2 separate regions of the Homo sapiens genome follow, and region 1 is linked to region 2. Evidence: fine-mapped expression QTL. A gene starts in region 2. The other region holds a variant in brackets. All regions are shown on one strand. Distances are between the middles of the regions.

The links. PIP is the estimated chance that this variant, and not a neighbour inherited with it, causes the effect.
Region 1: its variant is the best candidate, but not a certain one, in a credible set for the expression of LINC02248 in atrial appendage (GTEx, PIP 0.60).

Annotation. Positions count from the first base shown.
Region 1 is chr15:26,558,434-26,566,433 of GRCh38, forward strand. GABRB3 (gamma-aminobutyric acid type A receptor subunit beta3) reads right to left here. Exons shown (of 9, transcript NM_000814.6): 8 at 2,499-2,743. Among named protein-coding and RNA genes, the nearest start is that of LINC02248, 170 kb to the left of the region's middle. The variant G/A (reference allele first, on the strand shown) is at 3,282.
Region 2 is chr15:26,390,808-26,399,339 of GRCh38, forward strand. LINC02248 (long intergenic non-protein coding RNA 2248) reads left to right here and starts at 4,250. Exons shown (of 6, transcript XR_001751453.2): 1 at 4,250-4,437.

The sequences.
Region 1 (8,000 bases), 170 kb after region 2:
GGCATGGAGGGCACAGGATAGAGCAAGAAAACCTCCATAGGCTTGAGAAATAAGTATGTGATATGGTTTGGATCTGTGTCCCTGCCCAAATCTCATGTTGAACTGTAATCCCCAGTACTGGAGGTGGGGCCTGGTGGGAGGTGTATTAGGCCATTCTCTCATTGCTATAAAGAAATGCCTGAGACTGGGCCAGGCACAGTGGCTCACGCCTGTAATCCCAGCACTTTGGGAGGCCAAGGCAGGTGGATCATCTGAGGTCAGGAGTTGGAGACCAGCCTGGCCAACATGGCAAAACCCTGTCTCTACTAAAAATATAAAAATTAGCTGGGCGCGGTGGCAGGTGCCTGTGAGCCAAGATCACGCCATCACACTCCAGCCTGGGCAACAAGAGCGAAACTCCATCTCAAAAAAAAAAAAGAAAGAAAGAAAGAAATACCTGAGACTGGGTAATTTATAAAGAAAGAGGTTTAACTGGATCACAGTTCTGCAAGCTGTACAGGAAGCATGGTGCTGGCACCTCTTGGCTTCTGGGGAAGCCCCAGGAAACTTATAATCATGGCAGAAGGTAAAGGGGGAGCAGGCACATCTCACGAGGACAGAACCAGGCAGGGTGGTATTGTGGTATTAAACCATTCATGATAAACCGCCCTCATGATCCAATCATCTCCCACCAGGCCCCACCTCCAACACTGGGGATTACAATTTGACGTGAGATTTGGGTGGGGACACAGATTCCTCATGAATTGTTGAGCACCATCCCTTTGGTGCTGTCTGTGATAGTCAGTGACTTCTCATGAGATGATCTGGCTGTTTCAAAGTATGTGGCATCTTCCCCTCCTCCTTGTTCCTACTTTTGCCATGTAAGTTGCCTGCAGCTCCTGCTTTGACTTCCACCATGATTGTGAGCTTCCTGAAACCACCTCAAAAGCCGGGCAGACATTATTGCCATGCTTCCTGTAAAACCTGCAGAACTGTGAACCAATTAAACCTCTTTTCTTTGTAAATTTCCCAGTCTCAGGTATTCCTTTATAGCAACAGAACAATGGCCTAACAGTAAGTTTAACAAGAAGAATTAAAAAAAAAATGTGGGAAGAAACCCAACATGTAAACAGGTAGAAATATATACTTGAGGATTTGAGGGGATAGAAGAGGTGGAAAGATAAATTTTAAAAATTATATTGGAACTATAATGTGCTTTCATTCAAATGTTGTTTATAATCACAATAACATACTGCTTTTATATAAGCTGAAATGACATCTAAAGATAAAGTGGCTTTGTGGTTGGAAGGATGTAACAGCATTGCTGAGTTGGGCTGGGCTGGAGGAGGGTGTGCAAGGGCTTTAGAAAGTTCATGGACTTCATAAAACAAAGTGTCTAGGTCTGCCCAACCCTGGCTTTTTGCAGAACACAACCGGGAGGGGCCAGGGCCACGGCAGATCTATGAGAGCTTCCAGAAAGAGCACTGCTCCTGCCTTGTGCATTCCTTTTGGACTTTGCTTTTTCTCTAGAAGACTGTGGCCACTGGGCAGGTGGACAAAAGATGGTGTGCCTGCTCCAGTGCAAAGAATGGCAGCATGCTGGATCATCAAATTGATAATTTTACAACTAAAGGAATATTGAAACATTTTGGAAAAATGCTTCCGTAGAACAAATTCACACTCTCCACCCCAGCGTTTCATTCTTTCCAGACCCACAGGTTTTGTTCTCTTTGTAGGAAACTATAGATGATTTTGGCTTCTCCAGCATCAACACTAATATTGGTTTTATAGGAAACCCTGTGACATGCACAAGGAAATATTTCAGATTATGATCATCAAGCCTGCCCAAGTCCTACACAAAGCTGATGCAAGTATATTTAAAAAACCATTAGGCCCTGTTACTCACTTCTGTAAGTGGAGAATTCAGAAAGGGCAAGGGAGTCTTTCATTGCCAGCTCCATGTTGACCCTCTCCCTTGTGTTCAACACCAGGCCAGAGATTAACCAGCCCCAGTCCAAATGCCCTCACCCAAATTCAAGAATGCACTCCACTTCTCAATAGGCTGCCCATCCAGATAGACGCTGTTTTAAGGGGCTTACTGGTGAGAGGAAGAAAGCCTAGGTCTGTGCCCTGAGGGTAGACTGGAGTAATGAAAGTGACTGTTGGGCATGCTTTACCTGGGCAAAAAGCAACCGGGCCAGGGTCAATGTGCACGGAAATGTCAAAAGTCAATTTTGTTGGCCAATCCAACAGTCCTCTTTGTGTAAGCCTACAACCACTGGTTTCAGTGAACTCTGGCCAGTCCTAGCTAGATGGCCAGGACTCCACTGGACTGGTTTGAGCAACCCCTGAATAAAAAACACCTGGGTGCCATGTCATAAGGGCTATATCACAAGTACAAGAAGGGTGTGTGGCTTGACATACACTACTGGGGAAAAAACAAAGAAATATCATGCAAGTAAATGCAGTAGCTGCTGAGCTGCAGGGACCAGGTGGGGTCAAGGTGGTGGAGAGCCTACCCGGTTGCTTTCGCTCTTTGAACGGTCATTCTTTGCCTTGGCTGTCTTTTCTGCAAGCTTCTTCTGCCTTTGAGGGCCTCTTCCAAAGAAAATGTAGTTGACAAAGGCATACTCCAGAAGGGCCAGGAACACAAAGACGAAGCAGCCCATAAGGTACATGTCAATGGCTTTGACATAGGGGATTTTGGGCAAGGTCTCCCGAAGGTGGGTGTTGATGGTTGTCATTGTCAGCACAGTTGTGATCCCTAGAAAAGAAACAAAGTGGTGAGAGGCTGAAACTTTGCCACATTGGTCTTCACTTTTCACTTTCCTTTTATGTTTTCTCAAACAGCTTTAAGTAGTCAGAGATAAGGGGTTGAATACTGTGGGGTGACTGGAATGCAACAGAGCATACATCTTGTCATTTGCACCGCACGTCACCACTCAGAACAGCAAGCTGACATCTGTACTCTGGGGAAGTGAAGCCGTGCAGGGCATCTCCCTCCCCCACCCACCCCCCTGCCCACTACACCTTGCTATCACACACGATGGAATTTTGAGAGTAGAAGAAGAGATATGTAGAGCAGGAAAAAAGAATGTGGTTTTTATGAATGCTGGAAAAAATAAAAATAAGCCCAGAATTTAGCATAAAGCACAAAGTGTCTAGATGAGAAACCTCCAGGAAAAAGAATGAATTTGAGGTGTCTGTGGCTGCAGAGGCAAGGCTATGAGCGAGAGCTCAGTGAGGCAGCCTGTGAGAAGAAAATAATTCCTACTACAATGCTTATTGGAAGCAAGAGGAAT[G/A]AGGCAATGATTTTTAAAATTATTAGCCATGAGATCCAGTCCTGAGCTCAAAGAGAAAGAAATAGCTGAGTGAAGCTTCTGAGGGAAGATGATCTCAGAGAGCGACTTCCCTCCTCAACTAAGAAAGAATCTGTACACAAGCTGCTTAGGAAATGTTTGCTCAAGTTAAGGGTTAATGATTTCATTCATCTTATAGAATCCCACCATACTCTGGCGCAACTCATCAGATCCTTTTTTTAAATGTCGTTATGTTGAATTCTTTACATAGTATTGTATGGATGATCTCATTGTTTCCCAAATAGAGCTCAATTTAGTCTAAAACCATGTGTGGACCATGTATTGCAATTCTCCCTCCCATAGCAATAGACATAAGATTCTGCACTGAATCATCTGAGGCCATAGACACCAGGAGGCAAGTCAGTGACATGCCCAGAGCTTGTGGAGTTAAGTTACGCTGCGCTTACAGGAAAGGCACGGATCACTCCCTTGTGGTAGGGTGGGATGGTAGTACTGCAGCTGACGCGCTCTCTTGGAGACTGTATTTTTGACATATTAATATGTCTCAAGGAAGCAAGACAGCTTTGAGGGCTGAGCTCTTTTCTACGTATGCCACTGATGCCACTGAATGTGAAGATGTGGGTTTCAGGACCCAATAAAGAGAATAGGTTCCTCCGCATTGCTTTGTCAGGCTTCCCTGAAAAAGGAGACTTTCAAAGGAGAGAGCTTAACCATAATCCTTCATCCTCAGTAACCCAAAACCCACATGACATCACTGAGGCCAAGAGGTAGTGCCAGCCCTACATTTCAGCACTGTCCAGATATGTACTCTGGGACGGAGCCCAGGCCATTCTGCACATGGTCCCAGCCCAGCCCTCCAGGGCAGAGTTTGAATTTACTAAGCATTCCAATTTCATGCCCTCTGATTTCCCATCCTATCCTGGGAGGCAGCATCCTCATCCTCTGTGTCCCACAGGGAGAACCTTGAGACTGCAGAGCTCAGCTGGCCTGGGAATCAGCTGGAGAGCAAGCTAGACAGCCCAGTCTTCCATCTCCAACACAAGCGCTCCCTCCACTGAGCTCTGAACTGCTACTAAAAGCTAAGAAGAGAACTGAAGACTTGAGAAACTCTTTTTATGTAGAACTGCAAACCATGGTTGCTGACGGAATGTATGGAAATCCAAGATGTCAGAATATTTTAAGATTCTCTTTTAACATCACATTCATGTGCACCTGGGGACTTTTTAAATTTGAAAATGGCAATGGGATAATTACTGTTTACAAATAAATGTGAAAACACCACATAAATGCTACAAAATTAGGCATTCTCACCATTATTCAAAAAGTTTGTAATGTTGTTGCCACTACCGTCTCTCCCCCTTCAACTTGGATTTGGGAAGACCGAGCGCTTTGCTTTAGTCACGACTTTGCCTCTCCTGCTGGCTATTTTGAATGGACATGTATGACACAGGCCTCGGCAGATGTCCCAGACAATGGGCTGAAGGCACACAGGAATAGGTACAGCCAGCACATCTCACAGGCACTCAGCCTGGTAAATGAACCCCAGAGGGACCTGGGCTAGGACCCTGGATCCAGGCTGATTGGCACAGGCTCAGGAATCCCTAACAATAAGATTTCACAGTGAGTACTTCAGGTCTTTCTAGTTTGGACCCACATGCCACATGAGTTCTTAGCTTAAGAGGCCAATGCATTTACTAAGTCCTTCTATTGCTTTACCTGCTATGGGGGATACTGTGGATGGTGGTGTGTTGTGGTGGTCCACAGCCTGTAAAGGGGAGCCACATGGCCCAGACCCAAAGCCCAGCTCTGCCTCTGTGGGTCTGTAGCCATCATTTCGAGCTGTTGGAAATCTAATGGCAATGGCTGAAAAGCTCTGATGTGCCAATAAATAGTAACCGGCACTGTTAACACTAACAACAAATAATCATATGACTATCATCATTACAGAAAAATCATTCTTCGGTAGCCTCTAGGCTTCCTGGCCTTGCCTTGACCTTCTGCTCTCTAAAGGGAAATCATCCAGCTGCAGTACAGGAAATGGCTGGGTGGTGGCTTTCGTGTTTTTTTGTACGTTCACCAGGCTTGTAAGTCTTTCTGTAAATTGCTAGCCTCAACTTATTTGTCATTTAGATTATGTATGAAATATTGTATTTGAAAGCTGTATTTATAAAAATGAATATGAAATAAAAATATAATTTCTTTGCATTATTTAGTCAAAATATTTTGTTTCTCCTCCTCATGATAAAAATAATCTGGCCTAAATTTTATCAGTATACGTTTTTACCTTTAGAAGTATCAGTACTTTTGCAGATTGAGCATCTCTAACCTAAAAATCCAAAATCTGAAATGTTCCAAAATCTGGAACGTTTTGAGCACCTCCATGGTGCTCAAAGGAAATGCTAATTGGAGCATTTCAGATTTTGGATTTTTGGATTAGGGATGCTCAAACTAAGTATAATGCAGATACTCCAAAAGTAGAAAAAAATCTGATTTTCAAAACACTTCTGGTCCCAGGCATTTTGAATAAGGGACACCCAACCTGTATTCACTGAGGGTTTTGAGGGAGGCCATCTAATTACAACTTCCCACTTTAAAGTTTGGTGGTCGTTAACGCTAACAGTTCAATGTATCTGATGGTCAGACCCTGGGCAGCAGAAGCATATCATGCTGAAGCCCACAGAGCAGCCGAGGAGCACGGCTGTCTGAAGAGCCAGCAGAACAGGCCCTGAGTCCCTCCCGCGTTGAGTCCAGGTCCAACAGTGCCCAGAGCCCAAGGGTGAGCCCTCAATAGAGGCCTCTGCCGAGCCCCACCCGTCCTAGCTATGCAGAGGCAGCACCTTTATCATGCATTTAGAAGCAATGTGTATTGATCACAGTGCAGTCCCTTAGGATGAATGCAAAAAGCACTGTAAGCATTTCAAAGCTGTGCTATAAGACTAGGTGCTTGGGAAGGGGTGGCAGGAAGGGGGATTTCTCCAATGAAAGCCCTCCAAACTATAGCTGTATCCTATGGAGCTCAGTAGCATCTTAACAGTTATGAGGGATTCCTCAATAATAAGAGTTCATAATGTTTGGTTAGCTTTTTTCTTTTCTTAAACAAATCCATGACTTTTACAACATAGTAGACCAAATAACTCTTTACTGTAGTTTTACTGACACTTTAGGAATTATATGCAGTAGTTAAGGGAGAAGGTCTGGAAGTCATACTAACTGGATTGAAATCTTTCTTCTGAAACTTGGTAATTATATGACTTCGTACCAGTTACTTAGCTTCTCTGTATTCTATTTTTGTGCTCTGTAAAACTGGAGCAATAATACTTCGTACTGTGCTGTGAGTCTTCTCCAGAACAGATAAACTACATGAATGGCCTTAGCAGAGAATGTGGCACCTAACTATGTGATAATTTTCAGCCTTTATTAATCTTGTCTGTTGTATTGATGATGATGATGATGATGATGATGTTACTCAGTGCTCCTGACACTGCGTCATACTTTTTCTGAATTCACCAACTGACATTTCCCAGTGACTGTAGATCTAGACTCAGTCTTGTATTGGCAGGAGGGACAGAGGGAATGCATGTGCAGGTGTCAGTCATACTCTGAGAGCTGGATCTGTTGGGTTCTTGTCTGGCCAGACCCACAGCCCTAAGATCACAGCTGCCCTCTTGACCTCGGGGTCACCCTAACTCTAGTGAATATCCCCTTCACTCTGGCTCTCATGCTTGCCTCCCAGAGCACAAGCGTCAATCCTCCAATGTTGAAGCCTCAGCAACCCTAGCCAGCCCATGCCTTTATCCCAGCAAAGCCACAGAGGCACAGTTTGTTTATATTAATAATGCTGTCATGAAGAAAAAGTGGAATCTACTTTCATATAACTTAATGAAATTGGGTTGAATGTAACTCACTTCCGGGGTATTAACGATTTAATACTGTAGAAGGCAATACTTTACAATTAGGGAGGGACAGAATCTGTAATGGCTGGGAAATTCAGATATGCACATTTTCAGTACACCCCACCCCTTGTGATGTCAGATAATCATGGTTCCTTGGTACTCATATTTCACTAACTATCGCAGTGACGGCAAATTCTCTGTAGCAGATGCTTCAGATCGGTCTCCACTTTCATACGCCTCTTCTAGGCTTGGGGAGGGGTCCCAGCAACTTTGTATTTGTATATTTCATATTATTTTTCTTAAAAGGGGGTGCTTGAAATTGTATAAGCTAACAGCTCTGCATAATTTAGATCTGCCTCTACAAATGTATCTTTGAATTTTCCAAGTGAAAAAAGAGTTTAACAAAGAGTAATCTAGCAATATACGTATTTTTAAAGTAAAAGCTACATAAAGACTGACATTACTGGGGAAGATCTGCAGGCTGTAGAAAAGTCCTGGAGATTTTTTTTCTTTTTTTAGAGAACTGTGCTTATGATACCTATTAGAAATACATAACAATTAAAACAGCACTTTCAGTTTTTTGCAGCTTTACTCTTCATAGAGTGGTTTTCTTATCCACTTAACACCCTTAGGAATAGCTACCTGATTTTCTCAAGCCATAATTATGTGTTATTTCCTGGGAAATAAATCTGATCTTGATTACAACTATGCAAGTCACATGTTTGTCATCCATATACACACATGTACTTACATTTTATTAGAAAAGAAAACACGTTATTCAATTTAAAGTCCTGGGAAAAGTTGGTAA
Region 2 (8,532 bases):
GATCTAATTTACTCCCATAATTTTTCAGATGAGAAAATTGAGACCCCAAAAGGTAAAATGGATAGCTAAGTTCACGTGATGTTAAGTGTAAAACAGGAAATAGAATTCCCCTTGTTGAGGGTGGAAGTATGTCCAATATTCCTTCCCAACCGCAGCCAGCAGTCCAGGGCCTGGGCAACACTCACAGCTCAGTAGCAGGGGTGAGTGCCTGCTCTGAGGTCCACGGTGGCCAAAGTGAGGCCATCAGTGTGTAGAATAGTGTGGGGCTGACCCCTCCCACATAGAGCACTATTACTGTACTCACTCTTGGAGGTGTGCTCCTGCATCCACTCTGAGGCATCTCAGAAAGAGTAGTTTCACCCACGGCAATTCAATCTATGACAGCAGGTCATTTCTCATCTTCCCATAAACAATCGGAATCAGAATTTGAGAAACAAACATTCATACAACATGCCTTATATTCCAGATAGCAGCTCTAGTACTTTTCACACATCCAGTATCTTATTTAATCCTCTACCTTATTTAGTTATTTAATCAGACTACCCTGTCTGGGTCATTGCCTCCACTCCACAGGGGGAGAAATGTAGGCTCCCAAAAGTCAAGTGATTTTTTGCCCTGCTAGGAAGTGGATGAACAACCAACGGAGACTGGGGTCTGTGTGATTCCAAAGCCCAGACATCTTGAGGCGTTTCTAGATAGAGCAATGTGCTGGTGTTGATGCAATCCAAAGAACAAGTGAAATTCCTTTTTTCCAGTTTGTGATTTAGAGCAAAGGCAGTTGAAGGTTTTGTTGTTGTTGTTTAATTAGGGACTAATATTAGAGTAAAACTGCAAAATGAAAACCCAAGCTGATAAGTCCGTGGAAAAATGGATACTTAGGCCATATTTATATATCTACAGTCAACATTTAGAGAGCCTAGATTAATAGAGCAAACAGAGTAATGGTGATTACCCTGGTAACAAAATCTCCATTAAGCCTTGCTTGAGGAGAAAATGAAAAGCTTGAACATCTGTCAGGTTCAGCAAGAGTTCACTTAGGATCAAAAGAGTTATGTGCTCTTTTTTCCTTATAATCAAAATTACCAGAATGAGAACAGATCATTGTCTGGGAGCTCCGTGGTTGAGAAACCCCACTAGGGTCCACGAAACAACATGGAGTGACTTATGTCATCCGCACAACCTCTCAGGGTCAAATCAAGGCCTGGCTCCCTGGAGTTTCTTCCCACACAGAACAAACCATTGCCAGAAATCTTAATGTGTCATTAAACCAAATTTAGCCCGTGGTTTCAGGTTCACTTTTAAAAGGAACTTGTTAGCACATGAGTTGCATTTGATAAGCAAAGCCATCTGGCATTTTAAAAATTGCCCTTTTTGCCTTACCAGATGAAGAAAGAGTGTCCAAGAAGTTGGAGCTATGTCAGATTTTCATTTTCCTTCTCTTCTTGGGCAGAACAGTTTAAGCCAACCATCTCACATTGGAAGAATAGCAGCTCCAGCCCAGCATTTATTGGAGCTTTCCTCTTCCTGGCTAGTACCTGCCATCAGGTTGGTAATATTTTGCCATCCTTCATAGGGGCATGGATAGACATACATGCACCTGCTAAAGGCAGTGCTGTGTACTTTTTCTTTTTCAAAACATATTATTTGGCAATGTGTTTTTTCATCCAATAGGATATTTGGGGGGGATTTGTTCATTCCACAAAAATCTACCTTATCATATCTATCTCATATCTGAGATTAGAGCTGCTTCCTCCAGCTTGGGTCTCAGAGCAAGAACACACCCAAGGCTGACCAGAGCCGACCTGCAGCCCCCGCACGGAATGGCTGAGAAAGAGGCAGTTACTGCCGTAACACACTGGAATCGTGGGGTCCCTCAATACCATAGCAAAGGCGGAAAATGGCAACCAAATCCTGAGAAGTAGAATTGCTGAGTCTTAAGTCCATTCCACAAACACTTTGAAGAGAGATGTTTTGAATATACTGTTCTGGATTCTGGAGATCATAGTCGTAAACAACAGTGAAGGAAACCAAGTTCCCCAAGTTAGGGTGCTTACATCTTGTGAATATTATCCTTTTTAAAGTTTTAATAGGTGCTTAAAAAATTGCCCTTCTCTCTACTATTTGTTGATAAAGATAGAAAGAGGGAATTCATGGTGCTTTCTCTTTCCAGATTTTCTCTTCTATTTTCCAATCTTTTAAAAAAAATTCTCACTCTAAGCATGGGCTCAGCAAATCTGGATGTCAATCAACCAGCTCTTTCCCTAGGAGCCCCTGGCAGCCAAAGTGGATGCCTGTGGAGTATCCCCTTGGCAGCCCTACCCTTCAGCTTCCCTTTGACTTCCCTCCTCTGTATAAAGGGCAGACTTGGCTTTACTACACCAAAGTGTCACACACATGAGATTACGGAAGGTCATTGTTTACATGGCATGAATCCTAGGTGGGAGCGGGTCCTTCTGTGGTGGCATGGCCATGCTAGGCTGTGAGCCCATGGCTATCTGTGGAGTGGGACAAGTGGAATGGCCAGCCTGAGAGCCACTGGTGGGGTGGGAGTGTGGAGAGGGGAAGACCCCGACTCCAGAGCTCATCCTGGCGAGGTCAAGATGCATCATGGAGGTGGGCATAATGATCCCAGCCCCTGCTTGCCTTCCAAGTGACACACTTTTCCCTAGCCCCTTCCTGTCTGTTCTGTTCTTCAACATTGGTGTCTTGCTGAGTCAGGGCCCCATGTGGAAGTACTTGCCCGGGCTCCTGATACCTTAGTTGGGGCCAGCTACCCGTCTCAAAAAAGACAACCAGTCTTCAGAACATGGAGCTGATGTCCCTTTAGAAACTCGCTGCTGCTTCTTAGGGGCACTGCAGGGAGGAGGGAATGTGCCCGGCTTACTCTGGAGCCTAGAAGGTAGCACTTATTTTGAGAGTTAAAGGAACTTTCCCATTGTTCATTGGAAAAGCTGAAGCATATAATGGCTGGTGAGCACTCCTGGCTAGGGGCCTCTGAGTTGAATCCATCTTCTCTTCTAGGGCTACATGTATCTGCTGGGCTGGGTCTTCCTCTGGCTCCAGCCTTTATTTCCAGGCAATTACCTCCAGCTCTTGTACTTCCCTGGTCTGCTTTTCCCACTTGGTCTATGTCTATGCGGCCTCCTGCTGCCATATCCACGAGGGTTATGACCAACATGTCCCCATGTTCTTGAACCGCCTGCCTATAAGCATCTTTGGAAATGTGGCACCCTCATTTAACAAAGTACACCCTCCAAAAGTCAGGCACCACCATGCAGTAAACAGCAGCAAACATAAGCACTCACTTTTTGCATGTACTCTTCAAAAAAATGTGCATGTATTGGCTGGCCTCGGTGGCTCACGCCTGTAATCCCAACACTTTGGGAGGCTGAGATGGGCAGAGATCAAGACCATCCTGGCCAACATGGTGAAACCCCATCTTTACTAAAAAATACAAAAATTAGCTGGGTGTGGTGGCACGTGCCTGTAGTCTCAGCTATTTGGGAGGCTGAGGAAGGAGAATCGCTTGAACCTGGGAGGTGGAGGTTGCCGTGAGCTGAGATAGCACCACTGCACTCCAGCCTGGTGACAGAGCGAGACTCCATCTCAAAACATGTCCATGAATTAATCTTCACACAATCTTATACAGTTAGCTGGTATTATTACTCCATTTTAAAGGTGAGGAAATTGAAACACAGAGCAGTTAAGTACCTAGCCCAAGGTCACACAGCTATTCAGAAGCTTATCTAGGAATCAAACCTAGATGTGCTTAATCCAGAATCTGTGATCAACACTATTTAAACGCAACCTGAAGAAGGCAACTAGTGTAGGGGTTAGTATTAAGGAAGTAAACTCAGCAGAACTGGCTCATTCCTAGATTGGAAAAGAGTGAGGGTGAGGAGGCAATGAAGAATGATCCTGAGTGCCTGGTTTAGGTGGAACCATCTGGCACTTGTCAGAGAAGAAAAGAATCAAAAGGCAGAGTCACAGGTGTGGGAGATAACAGGCTGAGCATTGAGTTCTGGGGCCCGTGGGACTGCACGTGGATGGCTTGCAGGCTCAGCTTTGGCCTAGGGAGTCAGACCCTGCCTGCTTCTGGGCCCCAGAGCCACCCCCATCCACTTGTGATCTGGGAAAGTCATTTAACACCAGGACCCTTGTTTTCTTATCTGTAACATGGAGATGCTGGTAACTCGTGCCTCATAAAATCACTTGATGTGGGTGAGAGAGAAAGCTAAGTGTTGATGACAGTGTGGGCCTGACCGTGCCTGAGTAAGCCCCATGGGAACACAGCCGTGGTGGGAAGCAGCTTCCCAGCAGCCCTCCCCGCCATCGGGAGAATCCCCTGAGGCCATGAGAGGGTCTCAGGGAGGTGGACGGCCCATCAAGTGAGAACCGAGGGCACTGTGCACTCCTGAATCCTAGGACTCCTCTTAGGTAAGCCTTTGAGATTTTACTTTGTTTTGGATAAACTGATTCTTCCAATATATATATATATATATATATATATATATATATGTATATCAAAATCTCACTAACTTAGCAAAATTATAGTTAGATAGTAAAAATAGGTTCTAATTCTCTATAGCACTGAGGGTGAATATAGTTAAGAATACTTTATGTTTTCTAAAAGCTAGAAGATTTTGAATGTTCCTAACACAAAGAAATAATAAATATTTGATGTAATAGATATGCTAATTACCCCAATTTGATCTATTTTATATACATATAGAAATGTCACTCCATATCCCATAAATATGTGCAATTATTATGTGTCAACTGAAAATAAAAGAAAAAATACCAATAAAATATGAAACTTGATTTTAAAAAAATCTTACACACTTAGTAACAGCAAAATAACTGAGTGGTAAACATCATCTTATGTCTGCCCTAGAACGTCAGGAAATAAATTCTGAAGCTAGAAAAGGGATTCCTGCATTTCTAAGAGTGTTGACGTTACTATCTGGACCAGCCAGCTGCACTGAGAGGTGGTCCTACTGACTCAGCACGTGCTTGAATCACAGGGTTCAGGTGGTAGATGGGTGAGCGGCACTGATTTCAGATTAAAACAGCAACTCTCTAGAGACCTTATTTCTATTAATATGTTCTACTGCTGGGACTGACTACAGCATCTAACAGGCCACTTCACTGTTTTGTTTTAAAGATTTAAAACAGATCAGAGTCAAAGCTTGCATTCTTTGACCCTCTATCTGGTTGATGATTCTGAGTAAAAGGAGAATGGGTGTGACTGACTCAGCTCCATGGGACATAAAGCAAGATAAAAATGAGGGCACAATGGAAAACAAGTGACAGCAGTGAGAAGCAGAGCATCCTCTCTGCTGCGAAGCATGTTGTCTGTGTCGTTGGCAATGCTGGAGAAGCTATTGGACAGAAAGGGGAACTAAAAAAGTGTGGCTCCCACAGTACATCCAACTGGGCTTGTTTAAGACACACACATAAAGTGCTGGACTGGAGGGAAATTGGAGACTATGTGGCCACACACTTGCACCAACAGCCAGAATGGGGAAGTGGCCTAGTGAAGCTTAGCTGTGCAGAACCGGGTTCCCAGCTCCTGATTCCTGATGCCAATTAATTCCTAGTAACCAGGTTTTATTTGTATTTTGTTCAAAGCCCTCCTTCTCTGTGCAGCATCCCTAGGCCCTCTGTCCTGGAGGGGTGCCTTCCCCTCTGACATGGCACTACCACCTGTCATCTCTGCCCAGCCCGGGCTGGGCACTTTCTTCAACCTTTTGTTGCGGCCACTTTCCTTGACTTTCATCTTCTAGAGTGGGAGATTGAAGGGATGAGAAAATTGCAGTTCAGAGATGTTAAGGAGCATATCCAAGGTCAAAGCCCACTTGAAAGAGAATTTGTTGAGGTCCCCAGAAAGTTAGCCACTACTTGCTTTTGACTCCCCTGCCTACCTGACCACCTCTTCTCTGAGTACACAGAGTGGCTCTGAGGAAACTGCAGGTGAACCCCACCTGTGCCAGCCCCTGGAAGCCACCAGTCTGTTTTCTGATATAATGATTTCGCTTTTTCCTTTTTGGTAAGGTTATATACATGTATTTATATAGCCATTTGGTCTTGCTTCTTTTACTGAGCAAAATTTATTTAGAATTTTCTTCATTGAAAAGTTTTTACCTGCAAATTTAATGCCTTTAATAGATATAGGACTACTGGTTATCTATTTCTTTTTTTAATGAGTTTTGATAATTTTAATCTTCCACGGAATTGGTCTATATCACATAAGTTTCCAAAATTATGGGCATAATGATGCTTTGTGGATTCTGTTATTATTTTGTAATGTCTGTGGGATCAGCAATGATGCTTCCTGTTTGAGTCATAATATTAATAATCTAGGTTTTCTTGTTTTCTTTATGATCCTCACTACAGCTATGGCAATTGTATTGATCCTGTTTTAAGAACAAGATTTGTTTCCTCTGTTGTTTTTCTGTTTTCTGTTATTAATTATATCAACCTGCTCTAATTTATTCTATTTTATTCTTTCTGCTTGTTTTAGTTTTAATTTTATTCTTTTCTCTAGTTTCTAGTTTTCCTAAGTAGAATATTAGGTTAATAAATTTAAATCTTTCTTTCTAATATAAGGCTTTAATGTTATAAATTTCCCTCTAAGCACGCATTTAGTTGTATTCCCCCAAATTTTGATATGTTTTATTTTCATTCTCTTTTCATTTTTTAAATTAATACACTTTTTAAGAGCAGCTTTGGGCTTACAGAAAAATTAAGCATATAGCACAGAGAGTTCTATCTATACCTATTATTCACCCAAACACACGCACACACGGTTTACCCTAGCTTTTTTGTTTGTTTGTTTGTTTGTTTGTTTGACATGGAGTTTCGCTCTTTTGCCCAGGCAGCAGTGCAATGGCGTGATCTCGGCTCGCTGCAACCTCTGCCTCCCGGGTTCAAGCAATTCTCCTGCCTCAGCCTCCCAAGTAGCTGAGATTACAGGCATCTGCTACCATGCTTGGCTAATTTTATATTTTTAGTAGAGACAGGATTTCTTCATGTTGGTCAGGCTGCTCTCGAACTCCCGACCTCAGGTAATCCGCCCACCTCGGCCTCCCAAAGTGCTGGGATTACAGGCGTGAGCCAGCACGCCCGGCCAGTTTACCCTAGTATTAACATCTTGGATTAGGGTGGTACTTTTGTTACAGTTGATAAGCCAATATATACATTATTTTAACTAAAGTTCATAATTTACATTAGGATTTATTCTTTTTATTGTATATTCTACGGGTTTTGACAAACTTATCATGATTTGTATTCACCATTACTGTATCCTATAAAAGAATTTTACTGCCCTAAAAATTTCTGTGCTGTAACTGTTTATCTGTCCTTTCCTTCTCCCAAATCCCTGGCAATGACTGAACTATTCACGGTGTCTGTAGTTTTGCCTTTTCCAGAATATCAGGTAGTTGGAATCATGTAGTATGAAGTCTTTTCCAATTGGCTTCTTTTACTTAGCAATATGCATTTAAGTTTCCTTTATGTATTTTTACAGCTTGATGGCTCAAACTTTTTATCACTGAATAATACTTTTTTACTTTTTTCACTGAATAATAATTCAGTATATGGATGCACCACAGTTTATCCTTTATCCATTCACCTATTGAAGGACATCTTGGTTGCTTTCAACTTTCGGTAATTATGAATAAAACTGCTAAAATATTTGTGTGCAGGTTTTTGTATGGACAGAAGTTTTCAACTCATTTTGGTAAATACCAAGGGCTATAATAGCTGGATCATATGGTAAGCATATGTTTAATTTTGTAAGAAACTGCCAAACTCTCTTCCCAACTGGCTGTGTGGGAAGTGACCGTTTGTATTACCAACAATGAATGAGAATGCCTGCTGCCCCTTATCCTTGCCAGCATTTGATGTTGTCAGTGTTTTGGATTTTAACCATTTTAATAGATGTATAGGAATAGCTTACTGTTGCTTTAATTTACAATTTTCGAATGACATATGATGTTAAGAATCTTTTCATATGCTTATTTGGTGAGCTGTTCATATCTTTTGCCTGTTTTTTCAAATTGCTTTGTTTTCTTATTGTTGAGTTTTAACAGTTCTTTGTGTATTCTGGATGCAAGTCCTTTATCAGATCTGCAAATATTTTCTCCAAGTCTGTGGCTTCTCATTTTATTTTCTTGACAGTGTCTTTTACTGAGCAACAGTTTTTAATTCTAATAAAGTCCAACTCTTTTTTAATTTTAATAAAATCCATAAAATTTTGCTTTCATAGATTGCCCTCTTGGCAATGTATCTAAAAAGTCATCACCAAATTTAAGGTCACCTAGATTTTCTCTTATTCTGTCTTCTACAGGTTGCATTGTTCTGTTTTTTACATTTAGATCCCTGATCTAAGTTACTTTTAGAGAAAAGTGTGAGGTCTGTGTGTAGATTATGTTGTTGTTGCTGTTGTTTGTGGATGTCTATTTCTTCCAGCACCATTTGTTGAGAAGACTATGCTTTCTCTATTGAAATGCTTTTTTGCTCCTTTGTCAA